Regions from separate parts of the Homo sapiens genome. Here region 2 is linked to region 1. Evidence: fine-mapped expression QTL. A gene starts in region 1. The other region holds a variant in brackets. All regions are shown on one strand. Distances are between the middles of the regions.

The links. PIP is the estimated chance that this variant, and not a neighbour inherited with it, causes the effect.
Region 2: its variant is fine-mapped to the expression of SLC4A7 in whole blood (INTERVAL, PIP above 0.99).

Annotation. Positions count from the first base shown.
Region 1 is chr3:27,482,920-27,485,761 of GRCh38, reverse strand. SLC4A7 (solute carrier family 4 member 7) reads left to right here and starts at 1,378. Exons shown (of 26, transcript NM_001321103.2): 1 at 1,378-1,695. The coding sequence starts at 1,636. RefSeq lists enhancers at 720-849, 1,328-2,104, 2,120-2,179, 2,210-2,419, 2,580-2,639 and silencers at 980-1,459, 1,490-1,849, 1,880-1,949.
Region 2 is chr3:27,558,892-27,561,800 of GRCh38, reverse strand. No RefSeq gene overlaps it. Among named protein-coding and RNA genes, the nearest start is that of SLC4A7, 76 kb to the right of the region's middle. The variant T/A (reference allele first, on the strand shown) is at 1,255.

The DNA.
Region 1 (2,842 bases):
CACTGCAACCTCTGCCTCCTGGGTTCAAGCGATTCTCCTGCCTCAGCCTCCTGAGTAGCTGGGATTACAGGTGCCTGCCACCATGCCTGGCTAATTTTTGTATTTTTAGTAGACACGGGGTTTCGTCATGTTGGTCAGGCTGGTCTCGAACTCCTGATCTCAGGTGATCCGCCCGCCTCGGCCTCCCAAACTGCTGTAATTACAGGCGTAAGCCACCGCGCCCGGCCAAATTTCTCATCTTTATGAAACACTCAAGAGAAACCTGTTAACAATAATGAAAATTATCAGCATGCTATGTGCCAGGCACTTTTATGAATATAAATCCCCTTAATCCTTCAATGAGCCTGCATGGCAGGTATTACAATCATCCCGTTACAGAAGGGATATTTGAGAGACGGCCTACAGGGTGGACTCAATAATGTGGCAGCTGGCCGGGTGTGGTGGCTCATGCCTGTAATCCCAGCACTTTGGGAGGCTGAGGCTGGTGGATCACCTTAGCTCAGGAGTTCGAGACCAGCCTAACCAACATGGTGAAACCCCGTCTCTACTAAAAATACAAAAAGTTGCCGGGCGTGGTGGCGCGCGTCTGTAGTCCCAGCTACTCAGGAGGCTGAGGCAGGAGAATAGCTTGAACCCAGGCAGCGGAGGTTGCAGTGAGCCGAGATCATGCCATTGCACTCCAACCTGGGCTGGTGCAAGACTCTGTCTCAAAAAAAAAAAAAAAAAAAAAAAAAGTGGCAGCTGTCGTGGTGCTCAGTGGGCGAGCAAGCACAGGAGGACACCTGGTCAAGTGTACCCCATCTTTCACGGTCCCTGAGTTGGGGTTCGTGCCTACTGGATTGACAGAAAAGAAACTTCCAGGAGTCGTGAAGACTCGTTAGTTGCTTCGGAGGGTTATCCTGGGCGTCCTTGACAGAGGTGGCGTCCTCCTTCCCTGCAGCCTCTAAAGAATGTAGTTAGGAGCCAAGGGAGGTGGTGACCCCCCACCCCATTGAGAACGTCAGGGGAGCTTCCGACTTGAAAAACTAGTTAGACGCTCAGCTTCGGTCAATTAAGCTTATACAAAGAGGGGCGGTGCGTCCTGAGGAGGTGGCACGGGGGAGGCGAGCGGAAGTCCGCCAGCCGCCGATTGGCTGGGACAAATGTCCGTCCCGCCTCCCTCCCGCCCCATCTCCCGGTGGCCTAGCGGCGCGGCCCGCGGGCGCGCTGAGGAGGCTGGCGGTGCCAGACTGGCAGGGGGCGTGACCCGAGGAGGCGGGGCGGGGGGGCGTGTCTTGCCTGGCCCCGGCGCCGGGCTCGTCACGGTTTGCGGCTCCGCCCCCGAACCCCTCCTCCTACGCGGCTCTCCTCCTTCCCGCTCGGTCCGCCGGTTCGCTCAGTTCTAGCTTCAGGTTCCACGCCGCGGCCTCGCTCTCCTACTAAAGCCAGCCCAGCAGTCGCAGCGCGCACACGCACGCCCCGCGTCTCCCGCGCCCGGCGCCCGGCTCTCCCCACGCGCGCACACCTCGCGCACGGACGCACCCACGTTTGTCCTCGCGCGCCGGGGGCTCGGCGGCGGCGGCAGGGGCAGCGGCAGAAGCAGGCAGACCGCGCGGGGCAGTACCGTAGCGGCCGTCACGGGCTGGCCGGCCGGCCATGGAGGCTGATGGGGCCGGCGAGCAGATGAGACCGCTACTCACCCGGGTAACGAGCAGGGTGAGGGCGCCGCGGCGGTGGGGCTCCTCCGCAGGGGGAGGGCGCGGGGCGAGGCAGACAAAGGCGGGGGGCGCGGCGGGCGTCGCGGCTCGGCCACCTCGTCCCAGGCCCGTCGCCCCTCCACCTCCCGGCGGCCGGCGCGCCTCGCCATCCCCTTTGTGTGGCGGCCTGGGGCGCGGGTGGGAGGGGGCCAGCGGCTGCGCTCGGGAGGCCCGAGTCGGGGCGGCCGGCGGCGCGCCGCGGGCATCCTCTGCGCGGCTCAGGCGGGACCCCGACATCCCCGCAGAGGCCGCCTGTGACCCCGACCATCCATCCCTTCCCTCAGCGCTCGCCTCCCCTGTTTCTTAGCGCGCTCCCCAGGCGGGGTCCCGGTTCCGGTTGCCTTGGCGCAGGAGTTTCAGATTAGCCCTCGAAAACCTATCTTTCTTCTCCTTCTAAGGAGGACGGCGGCTCCACCTGTCTCTAGCCCCAGGCAGTGGTGAAGAGCTGGTTGAATCTTTCCCCCTCTTTCCGAGTGTCCCCTCCCGCTCCGCGGTGCGCTTTGTTCGGTGAGTTCTCCGGCCGCGTGGACTGGCCGCGCTCCTTCCCGGCCAAGGCTCTTTCGCTGTTGCCTGCCGGGTCCGCCTTCTCCACTGGCTGGGACCCGGGGAGTATCCTCCTGCCGCAGGCCAAGTAGAAGGAGGAGGGTGTCCTGAGCTGTCTGGTGCTCCTTCTCTAACTCAGCTAGCAAGATCGCGTTTCCTACTGAGACTGGCTTTGATTTCAGGGTTAGAAGAGAATGGGGATGGACTTAAGGCCGGTGTTCCCATTTGTGATGATGGGTGAACGGCCCATGCTCAAGAAGCGGACTTCCTGCTTTCTTTAGAGCACATGCGTCCCCGCAGTTGTCTCTTTCTCCTTTCCAAGTTCGTGACTCAAAGGAGATGGAAGTATTCTAAATTTTCCTACTTCTAATTTTTACTATGCAACCAGCAAAGGCGGGAAGGTTGCAGGGAAAATTGTCCGGTCTTTCACAACTAAGAGGAAAATTACTTCTCCTATGTTTTTATTCAAGAGTTGTCTTTAAAACTGCCTGCCGGCTTTCCCTTTTAACTTTTAGGATTATAGTTAAGGTTATGGAAAGTAGTCATTCATTAGTTCAGTACGT
Region 2 (2,909 bases), 76 kb before region 1:
TACTCAAGAGGCTGAAGTGGGAGGATTGCTTAAGCTCAGGAGTGTGAGGCTGTGATGAGCCATGATCATGCCACTGTACTCCAGCCTGGATGACAAAGCGAGATGCTGTCTCAAAAATAAATAAAGCCATTCCTTCTTTTTGTATTGCCTTTCTCTCAAATTTCTGGCTGTCAAAATATTACCTGTCTTTAGGACTCAGCTCAAATTAGGGGCAGTACAGCATAGTCTTTTCTTTTTTTTTTTTTTTGAGACGGAGTGTCTCACTCTGTCATCAGGCTGGAGTGCAATTCTCACTGCAACCTCCGCCTCCTGGGTTCAACTGATTCTCGTACCTCAGCCTCCTGAATATGTGGGACTACAGGCACGCACCACAACATCCGGCTAATTTTCATATTTTTAGTAGAGACGGGGTTTCACCATGTTGGCCATGATGGTCTCGATCTCCTGACCTGGTGATCCATCTACCTCGGCCTCCCAAAGCGCTGGGATTACAGGCGTGAGCCTCCGTGCTCGGCCTTTTTTTTTTTTTTTTTTTTTTTTGAGACAGAGTCTTGCTCTGTCACCCAGGCTGGAGTGCAGTGGCCCAATCTCAGCTCACTGCAAGCTCCGCCTCCCAGGTTCACGCCATTCTCCTGCCTCAGCCTCCTGAATAGCTGGGACTACAGGCGCCTGCCACCACGCCCGGCTAATTTTTTGTGTTTTTGGTAGAGATGGTGTTTCACCATGTTAGCGAGGATGGTCTCGATCTCCTGACCTCGTGATCCGCCCGCCTCCCCTCGGCCTCCCAAAGTGCTGGGATTACAGGCAGGAGCCACCGTGCCCGGCCCTTTTTTTTTTTTTTTTTTTTTTTCTCTAATTAGCCCTAGTACTCTAGAAAACAGAGCCCAAGGCAGGGATTAAAGTGCTAATGCTTCCTTTGAGAAGTGCAAACCCACAGCAGCTGGGATGGGGAAAAGGGGAAGTGGGGCAAGAAAAGATGTGGAGCAATATAAAGTAATGTTTTACTCTGTTGTACAATATAAAGTAATATATTGCACAATATAAAGTAATATATAAAGTGCAATATAAAGTGCAATAATATAATGTATATATTATATATTAATATATATTAATGTTATATAATTATAATATTATAATACTATATTAAGGTAATATATAAAGTGCAATAATAATATAAAATTGCAATATAAAGTAATGTTTTACTCTGTTGTGCGGGTGCGTGCTCAGCACACAGAACTTCTCTCACATTGAGGT[T/A]GTCCGTGGAAGAGAGGAAGGTAGACGAAACCCTGTCTCCCGCTTCCAGTTGGCCAAAGTGTGTTTTTTGTTGTTGCGGTTTTGTTTTGTTTTATTTGAGACAGAGTCTCACCTTGTCACCCAGGCTGGAGTGTAATGGCGCGATCTCGGATCACTGCAACCTCTGCCTCCCAGAGTTCAAACAATTCTCCTGCCTCAGCCTCCGGAGTAGCTGGGATTACAGGCGCCCACCACTACGCCCAGCTAATTTTTGTATTTTTAGTAGAGCCACGTTGGCCAGTCTGGTCTGGAACTTCTGACCTCAGGTGATCCGCCCACCTTGGCCTCCCAAAGTGCTGGAATAACAGGCATGAGCCACTGCACACGGCCCTAATTGGCGAAAGTTTGCTCTGCAGGCAGAAACTACCTTGCATTCCTGCTTGCATCATTCTTTCCTTTTGCCTATCTGATCCTATGCCCTGCAGCACAGCATTTCATCCAAATCCGGAAGCAGTGGGAGAAGCCAGACATTCTGGAAGAGCGTCTGCTTGATCCAGCTGCAGAGCACTAGCCAAGGGGGAGGGCCTAGTTTGTCCTCAGCTGCGGTATGATTGAGGAGGTGGACCATGCCAGAGGATATGAGAAGTCACAAAGCATCTGTGTCCGTGCAGCATCTAAGAGAGTGGGTTCTAAAGAACATAGGAAAAGACCATTTCCTACCACTCACCAGCTGCGTGACCTGGGTAAAACACTTTATGCCAATGTTTTTTCTTTTTTCTTTTACCTTCTTATTTTTAAATAATTCTAAACTTACAGGAAGTAGCAAAAATAGTACAAAATTTCCACTATACCCATCACTCACTGCTATGGACTGAATGGTGTCTCCCCACAATTCATATGTTAAAGCCCCAACCCTCAGTGTGATGGTATTTAGCCTGGTGCCTTTAGGAGGTGATTTGGTTTAGATGAGGTCATGAGAGTTGGGTCTCATAATGGAATTAGTGCCCTTAGAAGAAGAGGCACCAGAGAACTTGCTACCCCCCTGCCATGTGAGAACACAGTAAGAAGACAGCCATCTGTAAGCCAGGAAGAGAGTTCTTATTAGAACCTGATCATGCTGTACCTTGATCTTGGACCTCCATCCTCCAGAACTATAAAAAAAATAGACTTCTGTTGTGTAAGCCACCTAGTCCGTGGTATTCTGTTATAGCAGCCCAACCTGCCATATGTCACCAATTGTTAACATTTTGCTGCATTTGTTTTATCATTCTTTCCTTCTCTCTCTCTCTCTCCATACACATGAATGCACACACATCTAATTATTACAGTTTTCTGAAGTATTTGAGAGGAAATTTATGACATCATGCCCCTTTATTCCTAAATACTTCAGAGTAAATTTCCTATTAACAAGGACATTCGGCTGGGTAAGGTGGCTCACGCCTGTAATGCCAGCACTTTGGGAGGCCGAGGCAGGCAGATCACCTGAGGTCAGGAGTTCAAGACCAGCCTGACCAACATGGAGAAACCCCGTCTCTACTAAAAATACAAAATTAGCCGGACATGGTGGCACATGCCTGTAATCCCAGCTACTCGGGAGGCTGAGGCAGGAGAATGGCTTGAACCCGGGAGGCAGAGGTTGCTGGGCAACAGGAGTGAAACTCCACCTCCAAAAAAAA